4 separate regions of the Homo sapiens genome follow, and all the other regions are linked to region 1. The links come from fine-mapping of genetic effects on gene expression. A gene starts in region 1. Each other region holds a variant in brackets. All regions are shown on one strand. Distances are from middle to middle.

Evidence for each region. PIP is the estimated chance that this variant, and not a neighbour inherited with it, causes the effect. A credible set is the group of variants that fine-mapping cannot tell apart.
Region 2: its variant is the best candidate, but not a certain one, in a credible set for the expression of RAI14 in fibroblasts (GTEx, PIP 0.51).
Region 3: its variant is the best candidate, but not a certain one, in a credible set for the expression of RAI14 in esophagus mucosa (GTEx, PIP 0.81).
Region 4: its variant is the best candidate, but not a certain one, in a credible set for the expression of RAI14 in macrophages (Nedelec 2016, PIP 0.53).

What each region holds. Positions count from the first base shown.
Region 1 is chr5:34,653,104-34,658,253 of GRCh38, forward strand. It overlaps RAI14 (retinoic acid induced 14), which reads left to right and starts at 3,225. Exons shown (of 18, transcript NM_015577.3): 1 at 3,225-3,372. RAI14-DT (RAI14 divergent transcript) reads right to left here and starts at 3,070. Exons shown (of 3, transcript NR_183264.1): 1 at 2,890-3,070. RefSeq lists a silencer at 3,183-3,232.
Region 2 is chr5:34,537,219-34,542,368 of GRCh38, forward strand. No RefSeq gene overlaps it. Among named protein-coding and RNA genes, the nearest start is that of RAI14-DT, 120 kb to the right of the region's middle. The variant AT/A (reference allele first, on the strand shown) is at 2,970.
Region 3 is chr5:34,620,625-34,625,774 of GRCh38, forward strand. No RefSeq gene overlaps it. Among named protein-coding and RNA genes, the nearest start is that of RAI14-DT, 33 kb to the right of the region's middle. RefSeq lists a silencer at 321-681. The variant G/T (reference allele first, on the strand shown) is at 3,098.
Region 4 is chr5:34,569,063-34,574,212 of GRCh38, forward strand. No RefSeq gene overlaps it. Among named protein-coding and RNA genes, the nearest start is that of RAI14-DT, 85 kb to the right of the region's middle. The variant C/T (reference allele first, on the strand shown) is at 2,174.

The DNA of each region.
Region 1 (5,150 bases):
CTGACCAAACACCAAATAAAGTGGAGAATGACTTTTTGGCTGTGGTGTGATATCTATCTCTCCTTCCTCCTGCAGGGGCAGTTTCTTGTTATCCCAACAAGTCTTAGCTTTGGTTCCTCAGACTTGGGCAATCAAGATACTCATAATCTAAGAAGAACCAGTATTGATGAAGGATGAGCAAGGAAAAAGGGATGATATCATTTAATCTCAAGAATAAAAATTGAGCCCACTCAATCAATGAATTTCATTTGTGATGTCCTGGATGGCAACACTCTTTGGAGTTTACAATTGTATTGCTTTGACAAGACTGACCTGCTAGTGTGATCAGAAAACAATGTTTCGTCATGAAATGACAGGGCAGTTTTGCTTATGAAGGGTCTACAAACTAAGAGAATAGGTTTAGGATGTCAGAACTGAAAAAGATCGGGTATGGTGGCACATGCCTGTAATCCCAGCACTTTGGGAGGCCGAGGCAGGCAGATCGCTTGAGCCCAGGAGTTCGAGACCAGTCTGGGCAACATGGCGTAACCCTGTCTCTACCAAAAGTACAAAAAAAAAAAAAAAAAAAAAATTACCGGGTGTGGTGGCCCACACCTGTAGTCCCAGCTAGTGAGGTGGGACCTGGGGGCTGAGGTGGGAGGAAAGCTTCAGCTTGGAGGTTGAGGCTGCAGTGAGCCATGATTGTGCCACTGCACTCCTGCCTGGGCACCAAAGTGAGACAAAGATAGAAAGAAGACAGAGAGAGAGAGAGAAAGGAAGGAAGGAAGGAAGGAAGGAAAAAAAGGAAAAGAAGGAAAGAGAGAAAAAAGAAAACAAAAGAAAAGAAAGATCTTGGAGGTCATGTACTTTGATGTTCCCTTCTACTAATGAGGAAAGGGGGAACAGGGGAAGTTAAAACCCTTGGTGAAGGTCAAATGGCAAGTAAGCAAAAGAAATGGGTCAGGAAACCCAGTCTCCTTGCTCTTGGTGCTCATGGCACTACATATTACACTGCTGTTACCTTGATATTTGGATAAAGGAATGCAACATACTGCTCCTCCCAAAAGGTTTTACTACTTTACACAGGTTAGCTGGTCATTTTATTTTTGCTTCTTTAACTCAACCCCTTTCACCTGGGCCTAGTTCTCATCAAAGGGTGGTATTCAATGTATCCAATGAACCCAATTAGCATTTCTAAAACGCCTGGGCAACACAACCAATAAGAAGATGCTATTGAACCTCTTACTTCCCCACTAATCCCCCTGCAGTTGGCAGAACTTAGCTGCCATGCTCAGTCTACAGACTACAAAGTTGCTTTGAGTTTCAAAAGTGGGGATCTGGAAAAGGATCTTGGCACAGCCCAAAAAAATAAGAATACTTTCACAACGATCCCTCATCCAGAGTTAGACTTGCTGACTTTAGAGGGTGGGAGTGTAAACTAAGGAGAATCATATACAAACCACCTATGGGAATCTAAGAGGTGATAGGCTGGTAGGCTCTTTGGAGGTGGCTGGGACAGAGAAAAAAGAAGAGGGACAGGACCTCTGTGAATCAAAGTCAGATGTGCCTGCCTTAGACAATCATTGTTTAATGTTGTCTAATATTTTAACTCCTTCAAAATGTCAACTGTTCCTACAGAATACACACATGTCAAATTTCCAAGACAGCATCATCTACCTGTACCATGCTCCAAATCCCATCCTCCCAGCTGCCCCTACTTGAACCAGACTGACCTGCAAAAATAGAGCAGAAAACTCACAGGCAGTAATGTTCCCCTTAAATACCCTACAATATGTCATTAACAAGAATCACGATGAAACACTATTGTAGAAATTGCCAGCATTAAACCAAAAGAATGTTGGTCAGTTCATGTTTCTTTTACAGTGTGACTTTGTTTGAGAGGGATAAAGGACAGGAAGAGGAGTGTACATCTTGCTTTAGCTGTTCCTCACTTGGCTAAGGAACTTTTGCTGTAGGAAGTGAAGACCCTGCACCTAGTTACAAGGCTTTTGATGCTTGTTTGTCAAGTTCAACTGTTAAAGGGGAGATAGGCTCTTCCCTAGTAGGGAGAGGGAGGAAGGAAAGGGGGATGGGGCGGGGGGAGGGAACAGGTAATATCTGCCATATAAATATTAGTATGTAGCTGACACGTTATAAACTGAGCTGTTAGGGTGAATTTCAATTTTGTTGGAATCGACCTTTTTTCCCTCTTAAGTTCAATTGACTTACAGTAGATCCCAGAAAGAACTCAATACGTTATTTATTCTAGAAAGCTTTCTTCCCTGAGCAAAGGAGGCAGAGCTAACGAGGAGAAGGGAGGAGCTTAGGTGAACAGAACTGAAGTCACAGCTGGTTAGCATGACTAGAATGCATGGAAAAGCCAGCCCAAATTAGATGAGTGGGTAGATAGAGAGCTTTGAAATCCTTGGAATTAATGGTGGAGTCCATCGTAATTGAAAGGTCGGGCCTTAGTGGGCTGGGATAGGGAGAGAAGCTGTCGGGGACCTGGGGCAGTGAGCCTGTACCCCGTGGCTTCTCACACACTATTTTGAAGGCGTTCCCATGCGCAATCTCGCCTGTCAGTTCAGGCTGTAGGTTTCTCCTTTCTAACTCCTGAGCAGAACAACACTGAACGGTGGTAGTCTTGCCTTGCCACCCAATGAGTGCTAGAAAACAGTCACTTCAACCAATTGGTTCAGTCCGGAGAACGTGAGCACATTCTACTTTACTTTCTGTTCAATGATTTTGGAAAACAACCTTTTAGATTCTGGTCAGAAGGGGCTTGGATCCGTGACTTTGAAACACTCGCCACTACCACAAACGACTTTGGAAGTTAATCAGAAATAAACAGTATCTGGGATCTCATCCGTCCTAAACCCAGGGGTCAGAGCGTGGGGGGCTTCCACTAACTTCAGGTTAAGAGGATGAAACAGATCCGCGGAGAAGGGTCCCACGATCCCTGGAGACTAAAAGCAAGCCACGAACAGCCGGGACGCGCGGGCCGGGGAGATGCGCCGGGGGCTGGAGGGCGGAGAGCACCCCCCGCAGGTCCCGGCCAGAGCCCGGGGCCGGGTCACCTGACTCGCGGAATTTGGGGCCGCGAGGGGTGGAATGGGAGGGGAATGGTTAGCGCCTCCCTTCCCGCTCCCACTGGATCCAGGTCGGCGGGGGCCGGCGCCCGGCGGCCACGTGGTGGTGCTGCCGCTGCCCCCGCCCCGCCGGCCTAGCCCGGGAGCTCGGCGCCCACTGACCCCCGCAGCGGGGGAGGAGGAGGGACTGCGGCGCAGGAAGCCGAGCAGGAAGCGAGCCCGGCGGCCGCGTTTTCCTGGGGAAGCGGCGGGCGGGGTGGAGCAGCCAGCTGGGTCCGGGGAGCGCCGCCGCCGCCTCGATGGGGTGAGTGCGCGGCACGGAGTTGGGAGGCTCCCGGCGCGGGGTCCCGGGCTCGTGTCCCCGCCTTTGTGTCTGGAGCTCGGGCGCGGGAGGCGCTGGGGACGGCGCCCGGGCGGAGCGGCTGAGCGGGCTGCAGCCGGGGTCCCGCCACCTCTCCCTGGTCCACCGCCGGCAGCCCACTGTCTGCGGAGAGCAGATCTGGGGACAAGAGGAAGGAGAGGAAGGTGGAGATGAGGGTAGAGCGGGAAGACCCGGCCAAGTTAGGAGAAGGGTTCTTCCCGGGTCCTCCGCGACTCGCAGGCCGGCTGGGGCGGGGCGCGGGGCAGGGGCCGCGGCGGAGGGAGCGCGGGTGGGAATGAATGAGCAGACCCGGAGATGCACCCTGGAGTCTGCGCCGGGTCCCACCTGTTTCGCCCCGCGCGGCGCCTCGCTGCCCCCGCGTCGGTGCTGCTGAGCCCAATCCGCCTCCCGGCTGAACTTGGAGGAGGTGGGGAGGGAGGTGCGAGCGGGAGACTCCGGGTGGCTCCCAGGACGCGGGGTCCGCTATTGTTCCTCCTCTGACTCCAGGGAGCCCCTCGGCCGGCCCAAGGGCGGGGGCGAGACCCCTCTGGGCCTGCCCCTGCCCCCTACCTTGTTTTCCCCGCCGCAGCTCGGGGAGAACGGATGCTGGAGTTGGGGCAGACTCGGGGCCGCCGGGACTTCGGGAGTAAGGAGGACGTGGAGCCACCAGAAAGGCGCCCGCCATCTCCCGCGACCCCTGCCTGGTGGGGGGTGGGGGGTGGGGTGTCGTCCTCAACCACCTTCGCTGCCTTCTTGGGCAGGTTGGTGTCGGTTTAGTTTCTGCGGTTTGCAGGGTTGACATCCTAACTCCTTTGAGTTTCGCATCCCCCTTTTGTGGAGGGGGCTCAGAGCCTGGAGAAGCAACAGACGGGGAATTAAGGCAGATGCAGCCCAGCACAGCGTGGAGGGGTCCGAAGTGGCCTCACGGGGGCCTGAGCATGGCTGTCTTTCCAGGCTCCTCTTTATTTGCCAGGAGCCCAGCTAAGCCCAACTTTACTCCCAGAAATGTTGAGGGGAATCTGCGGACTCGAGGCCCCTCGCCTCGGGACCAGCGGCTTCTCTTCGCCGCAGCTCACGCATGATCGGGGTGGGATTCCGTCTTCCTTCCGGGAGAGGAGAATGCCCAGCTGCCTGGGATGGGGAAACGTTGCCGGATCTCTGGGGAATGTGGTCTCAAGGCTGCAGGGGCCTGGCAGAGAGGAACTGTCCATCACTAGGACATAGCCGAAGCTCGCCTTAGCGAAGAGAGTCTCACCTCCTCGGGCTTTGCACAGAGTTGGAGAAGAGGTCGGGAATCACAGGGAGGCTGGATTTTGGCTGCTCTGTCCCCAGCCTGCAGGTCCCTGTTCGCCCTGTGGCTCGGAATTTTATTACTGATGTATATAATCTGATAATCTTTTCTTAATGATGCCTAACAAGTGTGATTTTTTTCCCCCTTGGGTTTGTAAGACAGTTGATTTTATGTGAGGAGATTGATCCAGTTCTTATATTTTAGCCAGTGCTTGTCTAACAGAGATTGGGAGAGCTATCCCGTGCTGGGCTGTTGCACAGTTTTCATCTCCATTCACTGAGATGCTTCAGTAATGAATTTATTGTTTTATGGCTTTTTGGAGATGGTGGTGGTGGTGGTGTGATTATAACCCTGCTGGAAAATCTTATTACTGTTATCTGAATTGAAGAGACAGAAAGGATGCTGAGCCCCCTAGGGATTCCGTAGGGGA
Region 2 (5,150 bases), 120 kb before region 1:
ATCTTAAAGAAATATTTGCACACCCATGTTCAATGCACTCATAACAGCCAAGAGGCAAGAGAAACCTGAATGTCCATCAACAGATAAATGGATAAAGAAAATGTGGTGTGTACATATGATGGAATATTACACAGCTTTTAAATAAAGGGAAATTTTGTCACATGCTGCAACCTAGAGGATATTATGCTAAGCAAAATAAGCCGGTCACAGAAGGACAAATACTGTACGATTCCACATATATGAAGTATCGAATTTAATCTAAATCATATAGAAAAGTGGTTACCAAGAGCTGGGGAAAGGAGAAAGGGGAAATTCGTGTTTTTTAGTGGGCACAGAGTTTCAGTATTGCAAGATGAAAAAAATCCTAGAGATCTTTTGCACAACAGTGTGAATACATAACAAATTAATTGTACACTTAAAAATAGTTAAGATGGTACATTTAGTAAGGTATGTTTTTTACTACAAGGTTTTTATTTAACGGCAGCAGGGCTTATAAATTAGCCTGAAGACATCTCATTGAGCCTGTTCTATTCTTGTTGAGCTAAATAACAGCTACTAAAGAAGTAATCAGTTATAGATTGATCCAGATAAAGTCAGCCTATTTTAGATGGCTGATGTTTAAGGATGCCACCTAAAATAGGCTGACTAAATGAACACCATTTTTTTCATTCTTGCCCCAGTGGGGCATTGCCAGCCAGGGGTCCCTGCAATGTCACTTTGCAAGCCAGGGACCCCTGACTGACAACGCCCCACTGGGGCCTCACTCAGCCATCCTGACATACCCCAGCACACCTGTGTTATAGCTTATACCTGCGTTCTGCTGTTCCCGAGCTCTTGTACTGTGCCCAAGAAGAATGAGGATGCACAGGACATTGGAGGGTGAGGAGGGTGGAGAATAATTTTATTGAGTGATGAAAACAGCTTTCAGTGGAGAGGGGACAGGGTGATGGCTCCCCCATGTGGCTGGGTCTGGAGCCTTTTATGGACTCAGAATGGGGAGTGCATGCTGATTGGTCTGTGAGTATGCAAAAAAGTTTAAAGCAAAGACACCACTTAAAGGTGAGCAAGAAAGTGTACAAAAACCAGTTAGGAAAGAGTAGGTATATGTAAAATAGGTGAAGGGTGGGGACCAATCAGAGGAAAACATGCCAAATGGGAAGACAAGTTCCCAATCTGGTCAGAGGATTTAACTTGCAGCTTGGCTTTCAGGCTTTAAACTGTCTTCGGCTTGAAGGTGGGGTTTTGCCATGGGCCCACCCCTATCTGCCTAGGCATTTGTCTGCCTCTATCAATGTCAGAATGAAGACTGGGAGACCTGCTGCTCCTTCCATTGGTAAGAGGACAGTAACAGTGTTTTTTCACTCCTACAGCTTCTATTTATCTCTATATTGGTTTTGTTTTGGAAGGGTAAGAACTGGTTTTCTTTTTATTTTTTCTACAGTGAAAATATTTTTAAAAATTTTTAATATAAATGACTCATGTAAAAACACTCAAATGATACCATTTAATTTTTATCCTGATGACATAATCAGAAACCTTCTGGACCAGTCATTTTGCTTCCTTCCATCGTTTCTTATGAACAATATATACTAGCTTTCACCCTCATTCCTCCTAAGAAAGCAATTACACAAAGCTAGTATTACAAGAAAGCAATGTGAAGTATAGCTATTTTAAAAAACAAGGAAATTTTTGGGGGGGTGATGTGGGAATTACCTAGCAAATTTTGATGAACCCTAGGGATGCTGCTGGTCAACTAGACCCAGCAAAACAAAATACACTCTTCAATTACATCTATGTGTCTTGGCTTCAAGGAAAAGAGAATGGGTTTTGGTAATTGCAGTGTTTTGCTTTGGTTTTTTGTTTGTTTGAGATTTTTTGTTTGTGTTTGGTTTTTTGTTTTTTTACAAATTTGTAACATTTTTGAGATTGTTTTCTAAAACAAAAGCAGACCCAAAAAACCCACTAGATTTTTGTTCTCAGTTCCAGGGAAAAAAAGTCAGCCTACCCTCAATTTGAACCTGTATCCATGGGGTCATAATTAAATGCCTCAGAAGAACTTAAAATCATCAGAAAACATCTAATCATATTGTGACATGTCCAGCTACACATACTAGAATGTGGCTGGGCAGCAGTTTGACATTTTTGAAATGGCATCCGTAAAGGATAGGAAGGAAGTGCTGAGTAAGCACCAGGAGGAAAGTAATAAGGAAGGAGATTATTTTCTTTTCATCATATACCTGGGTCCAGGTGCTCAAAAACTATACACAGAATGAACTTGAAATTGTAACTGGAAGAATTCAACAAGGTCTCTAAAACATCCTGGAGACATGTAGGATGCTGCTTTGACCAGATGGAAGGAGCTAGGAGGAGGAAGTTAATTACATTTGTGGGCAGTGGCTGAGGCTTTATTGTAGTGGTAACGTATGAGAGAAGTCTTGAAAGAAAGAGAAGGATTTTGAGGGGCAGGGAAGTGAGGAAAAGACCTAAGGATGCAGGATGAGACCTTTACAGCTGCAAAGATGGACTGGGTTTCCAGTTTGTTTGCCAGACAAGGAGAAGATAATTGATATGGTTTGGCTGCGTCCCTGCCCAATCTCATCTTGAAATGTAGCTCCCATAATTCCCATGTGTTGTGGGGGGGACCCAGTGGGATATGACTGAATCATGGAGGCAGTTTCCCACATAGTGTTTTCATGGTAGTGAATAAGTCTCACAAGATCTGATGGTTTTATAAGAGGTTTCCCCTTTTGCTTGGCTCTCATTTGCTCTTGCCTGCCCTGTGTAAGACGTAACTTTCGCCTTCCATCATGATTGTGAGGCGTCTCCAGCCATATGGAACTGTGAGTTCACTAAACCTCTTTTTGTTTATAAATTACCCATTCTTGGATATGTCTTTATCAGCAACGTGAGAATGGACTAATACAATAATGCAGGGGTTTGTGTATGAGGGAAACACTCAGACTCCTCAT[AT/A]TTTTAGACCAATAATACAACACAACAACAAACAGCATAGAGGATGATCTGGAGAGGGAGTGGAAAAAATGGGTTATAAAGTTAATGCAGTGAACTGTGGCAGAGACCAAAGGGACAGAAAGGAGGATGGCATGATCTATACCTTCTAAAGTGTTCCATAACACAGATTAATTCTGTTTATATGAAGCTAAACAAAATTTTCTTCTGTTAACTAAAAAAAAAAAAAAAAAAAAAGAGAGAGAGAGAGAAAGAAAAGGAAAAGCTTTTATATGCTATAACTTGATTGCTTATAGAAGTTGCAACGTAAAAACAGAAAATAAACGTATGCAGACCCCAAAGTAGGAACAAGCACTTTTTTCACCTTGGAGCAATTGCTGCCCCTGTCCACTGCCAACTCCCTGCCCGACCACCCACTTCTCAAATGACACCTTTTGTTTCTGGACCTGCCCCCACTGCCATGCATGGAACAGAAACCAGGGAAATTCTTTCCCCACAAGAGCAGGAGGGACCAGAGGAGGTCACATTTAACACCACATTGCAGGAACAGAATTTACCCCTACGTTGCAAGAACAGAAAACAATGTCACTGGCGTGCTGAATTTTAACTCAAAATATATTTATTTCCCTCCTCCACTCCCACTCCTCAAAGAACCAGTGGGATATATATTAGTTCTGTTCTAGATTACTACTTATGGACTATTTCATTGCTTTATAAAAGTCGTTAGGCTCTCTTTCTAGCGTGTTGAAAGGGTTAATAGGGGTTGCTTCAATGGCTAGAAAAAGGTATGCAATTCAAATAACTGCTTTCCAAAAGAACTTCTAACATGTACCCGGTGTATATGGTGGTGGTAATACCACAGGCTTTCTGGGTCAGGCCCACTTTGCCACTTCTCCATTTAAGCCCGTTACTTAACCTCTCTGTGCTGTTTCCTCCTGGGTAAGTGAGGGTGATGGCAGTACCTCCCCCAAAAGGTTATTAGGAAAATTAAGCAGGTTAATACTGTATATGTAAAACACATGAAACAATGTCTGGTGCAGAGTTAAGTGCTTAATAAGCATTAGTGATGACCATGATGCAGCAAAATTCATTTCTTTTTTCCAAAATGAAAAGAAGAATGAGGTAAGAGAAACTCTTAGCAGGGTGGTGGTGCTAATGCTGTAGACACAGGATCCTAGGAGGTAAGGGGGAAAGAGAATCACCACTGCATTCACAGACAGCCCTCGTGGTCTCAAAATGGGGCAGCCCTTGGGCAGGGACACCGGGTGGACGATTTGGTACCACAGATGTACAAGACTCCATGATGCGTAAACTATAGATTGGTGTTTTCACTGGGGGACAAACCTAACACTACACATACAGGCATACCACAAAGACCCTCCTTCCCAGCAGAAAGAATATATGTGAGATATTCCAGGTTGCTTAAATGGGAGAGTTAAGAGAAAGAACAATTCTCCAAATTAATGGCCAATCTTCCCATGGAGCTAGGAGACAAAGAGCCATTCGCCTGCCTCACTTATGTTAAGATGAGGCATCCACCTTGTAACTCATGAGTCTCCCAGTTGTGTAACCACCCCATGGGTTCTTCTTGCCTGCTGCCCAGGTAAAGCCAATTTATCAAGACACGGGGGGTTGCAATAGAGGAAGAGCTGGCTAAACAGGTGACAGGTTTTATTATTACTCAAATCAGCCTCCCCAGAGGCCAGAGGTTTTTAAAGATAGTTTGGTGGGCAGGGGGCAAGGGAAGGGAGACAGCTGATTGGTTGGGTCTGGGATAAAATCATAGGGAGTTGAAGCTGTCCTCTGGCATTGAGTGAGTTTCTGGGTGGGGGGCCACAAGACCAAATGAGCCTGTTTACCAGACTGGGAAAAATACCTCAAACACCAATCTTAGGTTTGACAATAGTAATGTTGTCTATAGGAACAACTTAGGAGGTTACTGATCTTGTGGCATCTGGCTGCTTGACTCCTGAACCATAATTTCTAATCTTGTGGATAATTTGTTAGTTTCACAAAGGAGGTCTTGTCCCCAGGCAAGGAAGGGTTTTGTTTTGGGGCAGGCTGTTATCTTTGTTTCAAAGTTAAACTATAAACTAAATTCCTCCCAAAGTTAGCTCTGCCTACGCCCAGGAATAAACAAGGGCAGCTTGAAGGTTAAAAGCAAGATGGAGTTGGTTAGGTCA
Region 3 (5,150 bases), 32 kb before region 1:
AGTGTCAGGTTCTGAGGTCAACGTGTAGATCAGAACCAACATGAGGGGCCTCTGCACAGTGTCTTGGGGTGGAGGGCGTGAGTGGGGGTGAACAATGGCAGGATCTAGAAATGCAGATAATTTGAATCCACCCGGAAGTGACTGCGTCTCTAACATTACCTTCATTTTTCCTTTGTAATTAACTTTAATTTATTTTTACTGGTTTGTAGACTACCCAGAGACACTGTGGGAAGATTTGTCAGATAGAATTCTAAAATTCTCATTCATTTCTTTTTATTTTTTATTTTGTAGAGACAAGGGTTTGCTTTGTTGCCCAAGCAGGTCTTGAACTCCTGGCCTCAAGTGATCTTCCTGCCTCTGCCTCCTAAAGTACTGGGATTACAGGCATAAGCCACTGCACCTGGCCTCATTTCTGTTTTTTTTGTTTTGTTTTGTTTTGTTTTGTTTTTTTGAGACAGAGTCTTACTCTGTCGCTCAGGCTGGAGTGCAGTGGCACCATCTCAGTTCGCTGCAATGTCTGCCTTCTAGGTTCAAGTGATTCTCCTGCCTCAGCCTCCAGAGTAGCTGAAATTACAGGCACCTGTCACCATGCCCGGCTGATTTTTGTAATTTTAGTAGAGACAAGGTTTCACCATGTTGGCCAGGCTGGTCTCAAACTTCTGACCTGAAGTGATCCGCCCACCTCGGCCTTCCAAAGTGCTGGGATTACAGGCATAAGCCACTGCACCCAGCCTCATTTCTGTATTTTCAATATACTTTACCTAAAGCTTATTTCACTGTAGGCTGGCAAGTTTCCTGGACAACATAGCATGAGAAAAGAATGTAAGTTTTGGAGTCAGAGAGGAATTTGCCCAAAGTCTGGCTCAGCCGTATTCTAGCTCTATTGTTTTGGTCAAGTCATTCGAATTCTTTCAGCCTCAGTTTCCACATCTGTGTAATGGGAGTCATAAGGATTATAAATAATAGTTGTAAAGTGCCTGGCTCCTACTAGACACCTGATAAATATCAGAATTATAATCATAGTGCCAAGGAAACATTACTTTCTCATATGAACTAGGGGACTTATACAAAATAAAAGAATGCCCTTTTCCACATCTGCAGGTTGTATCAAGTCCTGATATACACAAGTGGTCACACAAAGGAGTTCAAGGTTAAAGAATGAGGAGACTGAGCACCAACCCTTCCCTGGGTCCCTGCCGTTGGCACAACTCACAGCACTGCTAACAAAGGCTCAGGAACAACATCCTCATCACACCCATTCATCATTTTTCACCTTCCTTTTTGAGGTTAGGGATGGAAACTATTAGAGTTAGGAAAATGACTGTAATATTTTCCCCCAGTCATGATATTCTATCAATATGAAAGTTCCCAGAATATTCAACAGCCTCAGAGCTCACCAGGGTGGTAAGCCTAAACTTATTTGCTTTTAAAACATAAATGAAGTTGGTTCTGTAAATGTAACTTCTCACTGAGCCCAGAAATGAAAAATTCCAGCTTGTCACTGATCTCTTACAAAACTTGGAAGGAGCAATCTCCTTTCGTAGGCAGGATTCATATAAAACAGCCCAACTCAGTTCTTGTTTCTTTGTTTGCTCCATGTTTGGTTATAATTAAGTGTTTCATTCTTGAGGTTTCTTATCCACAGAGCTTCCCTGTAGAAGAGTTACCAGAGAATTATTTCTGCCTTTGCAAAGCAGGGAAGAGGTTCCCCCACCCACCTCTGTCTGAGCATTAAATCCCAGACACCAGCAGTTGGACTGAGCCCCACTTTCCAATCCTTTGATATTCCTTCCAATATTTTAGGGTGCAAGTCACCAAAACCAGAAAATCTTTATTGTAATTTTTTAAATTGCTGTTTGTTTAATTGATACCGACAACTAGTATTTCCTTCTTTAACTTTTCTATTTTAGGTTAGACCATGGAAGTTAAAGCAATGTGTGGAGGAAGAGTGTTGTGAGAAAAGAGAATATTAGAAGTAACTTTTATTTTTGGAGATTTTGAAAATAAATAGAGGGAAATGAGATAACCTCATGAAGGAAAGTAAGACTTAAGATCTGGAAGAGATTGAGTAGTTTCCTCATGTAAGGAAACCATAAACATGAAAGGTATCATGGTGACTTGAGTTGGGTTTTGAGAATGAGAAACTTGCTTTCCTCTCGGGCCTCCCCCACAAGTTGGGGAAGCCCACCTGCATTTTCAGGATGCTGGTCCCATGCCCAACCCAAGCATGTAAAATGGAAGAAATGAGCCCAAAGGGGAAGATTGGAAGCCCCAAAATGATCCAGGCTTTTCTCACAACTTAACTTGGTACATCGTGGCCCCAAATGAGAGCATAAAGTGAACCCAGACAACCATTTAAGTGGTAGACCTTGAAAAGAGCATGCTGGCTCCAGATTTTCTCACAGCAGCCTGCAGTTCTTCCCAAGGCTCTTTTCTGTGAGTTAGCTCATTCGAACTTCCTCCTAAAATGTCATGAGCTATCTGGGAGGAGTACATCGCAATGCCATTATTACCCATTATAATTTTAATTTGACTTGATTTCTCACATCATGGGTGCTGTGGACTGAATGTTTGTATCTCCACAAAGTCGATAAATTGAAGCTTTATTTCCCAGTGTGATACTATTAAGAGGTGGGGCCTTTGGGAGGTAATTAGGTTGTGAAGGATGAGCCCTCATGATGGGATTAGTTCCCTTATAAGAAGAGACATGAGGCCGGCTGCAGTGACTCATACCTGGAATCCCAGCACTTCGGGAGGCTGAGGTGGGAGGATCACTTAAGCCCAGGATTTGAAGACCAGCCTGAGCAAATATAGTGAGACCCTCCTCTCCATAAAAAAATTTTTTTGGCCAGGTGTGGTGGCTCATACCTGTAATCCCAGCACTTCGGGAGGCTGAGGTGCGTGGATCACAAGGTCAGGAGATCGAGACCATCCTGGCCAACATGGTGAAACCCCATCTCTACTAAAAATACAAAAATTAGCTGGGTGTGGTGGTACATGCTTGTAATCCCAGCTACTCAGGAGGCTGAGGCAGGAGAATTGCTTGAACCAGGGTGTCAGAGGTTGCAGTGAGCCAAGATAGCGCCACTGCACTCCA[G/T]CCTGGCAGCAGAGCAAGACTCTGTCTCAAAAAAAAAAAAAAAAAATTTTTAAGTTAGCTGAGTGTGGTAGCATGTGCCTGTGGTCCCAGCTACTTGGGAAGCTAAGGTGGGAGGATCACTTGAGCCTGGGAGGTTGAGGCTGCAGTGAGCCCTGATCACACCACTGCACTCCAGCTGGGTGACAGAGTGAGACCCTGTCTCAAAAAGAGGAGATATGAATACGTACAACTAATATATAATCAATTTTTTAATTATTTATTTATTTATTTTTATTTTATTTATTTGTTATTTTTTTTGAGATGGAGTCTTGCTCTATCGCCAGGCTGGAGTGCAGTGGCACAACCTCGGCTCACTGCAACCTCCGCCTCCTGGGTTCAAGCGATTCTACTGACTCAGCCTCCTGAGTAGCTGGGATTACAGGAGCCTGCCACCATGCCCAGCTAATTTTTGTATTTTTAGTAGAGACGGGGCTTCACCATGTTGGCCAGGATGGTCTTGATCTCTTGACCTCATGATCCGCCCACCTCAGCCTCCCAAAGTGCTGGGATTGCAAGCGTGAGCCACCGTGCTGGCCAATTTTTTTTTAAATAAGAGATATGAAAGAAATCACCTGTTTCTCTGCCACATGAGGAAACAGCAAGAAGGCAGCCCTCTGCAAACCAGGAAGAGAGCCCTCACCAGGATCCAAATTGGCCAGTACCTTGATGTTGGACTTTCTAGCCTCCAAAACTGTGAAAAATATTTTTTTGTTGTTGTTTAAGCCACTGGTTCTATGGTATTTTTGTTATAGCAGCCTGAACTAAGGTGAAGATTATGGGGGAGAGTATAAATAAGAGGAACAGTGGACTGCTGTGTTTTAATATCATTGGTAGGCATGGTCTGAGAGTGGCTGGCTGCAGAAGAGGCCCTGGACAGACAGGGGTTGTCCTGCTCAGAAGTGTGCACACTGCTGGTCTGAAAGCGAAAGATCATCCATCTCTCATAGGATTCACAAGTCAATCATTAAGCAAGCATTTACTGAGGACCGATATGATGTGCCAGGCACAGTTCCAGGCACCGTGAACCCAAAGAGTTCTCCAAGATACATTCCTCAGGTAAACAGGTAATTAGGCCACCACATGCTAAGTGGGAAGATACAGATATACACAGGAAGCTACAGGAACACAAGGTGTGGGACTGAGCCCAACTCAGAGGGAGTGCTGGAAGATTGTTAGGACAGGCTCCCTGGAGGAGGTGATAGCTGAGCCAAGGTATTTTCCATAGCAGAGATTACCATATTTCACCGATTATGAGATGCACTTTCTTTTCCACATTGTAACATCTCTAAAACTGGGATTCATCCCATAATTGATGGAGACTTGCCATAGCTCTGATTGTCATTACCTGCACACAGGTAAATTCGGTCATTTTGTCATCAATTCATTTGAGTTATTTGCAACATTAGTACTACGCAAGTGGAGTTTAATCGCCATTTAAAATATCTTCAAAAACATTAGATATAGTTTGGTGTTACAGCAAAAAAAAAAAGTCTACACAGAAAAGTATAGGAATAAAGGAGCTTACATTGGATATTAACAAAGCAGATATTTATGGAGGAATGACCAGAGTTGTGTATTTGTCACAAGTATTTTAATAGAATCAAGAAGAGAAGATACCCACAAGTATGTGAAGCTGTGTTATATTTTGTTACTAAGATACCAAAAAAAAGAATTGTCTATCACACACTAAGCAACACAGCTAAAGGCAGGAAAGTTGCCAAACCCAGAGGAATATACACAGGGAAGTATCAAATGAGCAAAGGCTGGTGGCACTAATTTCATGCACGAGCAGGACTGTTCTTAAAGCATTATATCACAGTTTAATGGGCAGAGTGGTGTTTTTCTTTTTTGGTGATAAATAAACCAGCCAATCAATGGTACCTTAATTTGATATATAGTGGGACATTTGGATCAAGGGACAGAAACCCACCCACTTTAACTTAAACCTAAGGCAGTGGTGTGCTAGAGCCAGCTCGTGTAAGCTCACAAAAGATGAGTATATATGCACAAGTCT
Region 4 (5,150 bases), 84 kb before region 1:
GCACCACATTTTTTAATCTCCTGCTCCACCTCCCCCCGTCACTTCACTTGATTCAGTTTGAGCTTATCACGGACAAGTTTTGATGTGTGCTGCTACTTAACTGAGTCTCCTACTTCTTGTAGAGTTTATTCAGTTGGCTCTTTGGGCCAAGTATGGGACATTTAATTTATGCCTACAACATTTCATCTTCTTGCATTTGACCCATTGCTAACAAAAAGATCTGCTGCCTCCTCCTTCTGCCTTACTGAGAGGAGTAGAACTGTCAGGCATGGGTACCCATAGGTAGCTTTATCCTCACCTGTTGGGTAGTAACCATTAACTAGGCCTGGAAGCAGAACCACCTACAGTGCAATTCCAGATAGCACCGTTCACATTATAGCCTGTGTAAATAGTGCCCTTTGTGGTCTGCCTGGAAGATGGGATGTATGTGTGTGTGTGCGTGCATGCACATGTGCACACACATGCCCACACACACACACACCCTTACACTTCCATTCTTTTTGTTATGGAGATTTATTGAAAAGGGAAAAGTACACACTCAATAAAAGGGAGTGTGGGTGTACTCAAGAGAGAGACATGCCGTATACCTCTACTCTGTCTGTTGGAAGATGACCTTAAATATCTCACATCAGGTCCTTGATCACTCTGGCCAGAAGTGCTCTTTTTCTTCCTCTGAAGCTGTGAAACTGCTGTTTGTTCTTCAGTTAAGGCAGTCCTAATTGTAGTCACTCTTGCCTTTGTCTTTCAGTATTGGAACCTCTTTGAGGCCAGGTATCTTAGTCAGGTCAGGTTGCCATAACAAATGACTATCTGTTGTTTAAGTCTGGGTGGCTTAAACAACAAATATTTATCTCTCACAGTTCTGGAAGCTGGAGAGTCCAAGATCAAGGCACCATCAGAGTCACCGTAGGTAAAAGCCCGCTTCTTAGTTTGCAGAAACCTGTCTTCATGTTGTATCCTCACAGGGCAGAGAGCAAAGAGGAAAATCCCATGTTTCTGCCTCTTTTTATAAGGACAGAAATCCCATTAATGAGGGTTCCACTGTCATGACCTACTGACCTCCCCACGAAAGCCCCAACTTCAACTACTATCACATTGTGCGTGAGGCTTCAGGATATGAGTTTTGGTGGAACATAAGCATTCAGTCCACAGCAACGGGGTTAGATCCTACAAGCTTTTGTGTCCCTGGTACACCTCATAGGATGCCTTTCCTTTTTTATTTTATTTTACCTTTTTTTGAAATGGGGTCTGGCTCCGTCGCCCAGGCTGGAGTGCAGTGGCACAATCATGGCTCCCTGCAGGCTCAACCTCCCTGGCTCAAGTGATCCTCTCACCTCAGCATCCAGAGTAGCTGGAACCACGAGTAAGTGACACCATCCTCAGTTCATGTTTTGATTTTTAGTAGAGACAGTGTTTCACTGTGTTACCCAGGCTGGCCTCAAACTCCTGAGCTCAAGCGATTCTCCCACCTCAGCCTCCCAAAGTGCTAGAATTACAGGCATGAGCTACCGCACCTAGCAGGATGCCTTTCCTGTAGTTGGCCCTCAGAACAAGGAAGACGTAGGTCTGAGCAGCCTGGTAGTGGTGTTTCAAATCCCATAGCTTGATGATTTCAGCACCCTTTAGGATTTATTCAAAGTAGAGTTAAATTCCAAGCCCACAAACAGTGGGAAGAGAGGAAGGGCGGTAGATGGTAAAAAAGGCTAACAGTTGCTGGTTCCTCCCAGTGTGTCTCTGAGGACACTTCTTTTCCCCATGGGATGATTAATACAAGGGTGTATATTCAGAAAACTTTTTCTGAAGGTTTAATGCAACCAGGGTGGGGAGTTACATCATAGTCTCACATAGCCAACTTTAAATGGAATATCAGCCGTGCCTCTTCTTAAAAGACCCATGGCCAAGCCCACCAACCAGGGACATCTCAGGGTAGCCTCTCTGAATAGCATCTGGGCCTCTCTCATCACACTGTGCTCCTTCTTCCCTGCCCCTTGGCAACATCTAAGCAGAATTTCTTATTCTCAGTCATGCCAAAAAATTCAGCAACCTCCAGCCTCTTCCTAAACCTAAACTTCAGCACATAACTGTGCTGTCAGTGAAATACTTTGCTGACCAGGCCATTTGATCCAGGACTCCACCCCAAAGCATCACAGCAGACGTTTGAAATTATAGTTCT[C/T]TCTTTTTCATAGACCAGTTCGAATTCCTAGGCTGGGATGACCTCTCTAGCTCTCCCTTCTTCTCCACACAAAAAAGAGGCAAAAGGAAGTGCACATTTCCACTTCACAGACTTATTGGTTGATTAATGAAGATGGGCTTTTCAAGCAGTCTGCCTTCTGGGATTGATTTCACTTTACCAAGAGATAATGGCCCATGGGACCCTCTCACTCTTTCTTAATCTGAGTGGGCTGGTTTTCCATGAGGTTTAATCAGAGAAAAAGGAAATGAGCTCATGCAAAGCTAAACCCCCCTAAAGCCTCAGATTCTTATGTTTTTGAGTCATCTGTGCAATACTTCCCTTCACTTCACTGGAAAGCAGAGAACAGAGAGAAAGAAGGTGTATTGATTTCCCAGGGCTGCCGTTACAAACTATTGCAGACTGGGTGGCTCAAAACAACAGAAATTTATTTTCTTACAGATCCAGAGGCCAGAGACCCAAACCAAGATGTCAGCAAGGTTGATTCCTTCTGGGGGCTCTGAAGGAGAATCTGCTGCATGCCTTTCTCCACTGCCTGGTGGTTTGCTGGCTGTCCATGGCATTCCTGGGCTTGTAGATCCCTCATTCCAATCTCTGCCCTTGTCTTCACATGCCCTTCTCCCCTGTGTGTCTACGTTCAAATTTCCTTCTTATAAGGACACATGCGAGATTGGTCAAGTGTGACCTCATCTTAACCAATTACATTGTCAAAGACCCTATTTCCAAATAGAGTCTGTTTCCATTCTGAGGTTCTGGGTAGACGTAAATTTTCAGGTATACTATTCAACCCGCCACAGACAAGAAATGGTGTGTCTGCACAATTGGGCGGCTGCAGAAGTCTTCTCTTCTTTCTTACCTGCCAGTGCTCATCCTAAACATGCATTTAAAAAGCAATAGAGCAGGCTGGGTGCAGTGTGGCTGAGGCCTGTAATCCTAGCACTCTGAAGGAGGCTGAGGCAGGCCAATCACTTGAGGTCAGGAGTTTGAGACCAGCCTGGCCAACATGGTGAAACCCCGTCTCTACTTCAAATACAAAAATTAGCTGGGCGTGGTGGCATGTGCCTGTAATCCCAGCTACTCAGGAGGCTGGGGCAGGAGAATTGCTGGAATTTGGGAGGTGGAGGTTGCAGAAAGCCAAGATCATGCCACTGCACTCCAGCCTGGGCAACAGAGCAAGACTCTGCCTCAAAAAAAAAAAAAAAAAAAGAACGAAAGAAAGAAAGAAAAAAGAAAATGCAATAGAGCAGACTGGTTTAGACTCTGGGCTCTCAGTCACGGCATCTGTGTGCACAACTCAGCCCTGCCTCTCACCTATGTGAGGTTTTACTCCTCTTTTGCTTCTATCTCCCCATCTACAAAATAGGGATAAAGAGAGTCCCAACTTCAAAGTCTTGTTGTGAATATTATGTATATTAATCAGTGTGGAGTGCTTGGAACAGTTCCCGGCACATAATTTGTGCTCAATAAATGTTACCAGCTGCCTATATTTTCTGAGTACCTTTTTTTGCAGGAGCCATTGGAGGTACTAGGGATATGAAACAATTAACCAAAACTTTTGCCCCAAAGGTTGAATAGTGCAGACTTTAACAAGGTAAGTGGCAATATAAATGTGTACATGCAAATACTAAGTGACAGGTGGCTCTTCTGGTTATTGTGTGCCGGTAAATTGGGAAGAAAGACAGCCTGTATATTGGCAGCCTGTGGCATCCCCACTTCTTGGAGCATAATTCATTGAACCTCTTTCTACAAGGAGCAATGCTCTTTAGGTCTTGACTGGGACAAACAACATATAACATTTGTACACAACTTAGCAAGTGCTTTGCTGTGGTTTGAATGTGTTCCCCCAAAGTTCATGTGTGGAAACTTAATCCCCAATGCAATGGTGTTGAGAGGTGAGACCTTCAAGAGGTAATTAGGTCCTGAGGGCTCCGCTCTCCTGAATGGATTGGGGTCATTATTGTGGGAGTGGGTTAACTAGGGCAGAAGCGGGCTCCTGATAAAAGGATGCTCTTGGCCCCCTTCCCTTCTTGCTCCCTCTCGCCTTCTCTTTGCCCTTCGGCTGTGGCATGACAGCAAGAAGGGCCTCATCAAATGCAGCCCCTTGATCCTGGACTTCCCAGACTCCAGAACCATGAGCCTAATACATTTCTGTGTATTATAAATTATCCAGTCTGCAGTATTCTGTTATAGCAATACAAAAGAACAAAAATATGCCTGCCTACAGATCATCTCAGGCAGTCCTCACAATGACTTCATGATACAGGTGGTGCTAGGTCTATTTTGAAACTAGAGAAAAATGAGATTCAGAGAGGTTACTAACTGATTTCTCCAAGGTCACCTAGCAGATCCAGGTCTCAAATCCAGCACTCTTTGCCTGATGCAACTAACTGACTACTTAGATGGGCACACTTGGGGGTCAATTAACTAAACAACTGCACTAAAGAAGGATATGTCATGGGGCCCCAGGAAGGCTGCATCTCCTGATGATGACAACGACAACTTCGAGGATGATGTTGTGCCTCAGTTTGTGTCTGCTTTGGGATTTTAAAAGTGGTTTGAGGCCAGGTGTGGTGGCTCACGCCTGTAATCCCAGAACTTTGGGAGGCCAAGGTGGGCGGATCACCTGAGGTCAGGAGTTCAAGACCAGCCTGGCCAACATGGTGAAACCCCGTCTCTACTAAAAATTCAAAAATTAGCTGGGCATGGTGGCGTGTGTCTGTAATCCCAGCTACTCAGGAGGCTGAGGCAGGAGAATTGCTTAAACTCAGGAGGTGGAAGTTGCAGTGAGATCGCGCCACTGCACTGAAGCCTGGGCAACAGAGCAACACTCTGTCTCAAAAAAAAGAAAAAAAAAAAAGAAAAAAGAAAAGAAAAGTGGTTTGAGAGTTGCTGAGAAAGCTTTAAAACTAGGTTTCAACCTGGACTTGGTTGTTCACCTTGTTATTGAATAAAAAGTGGC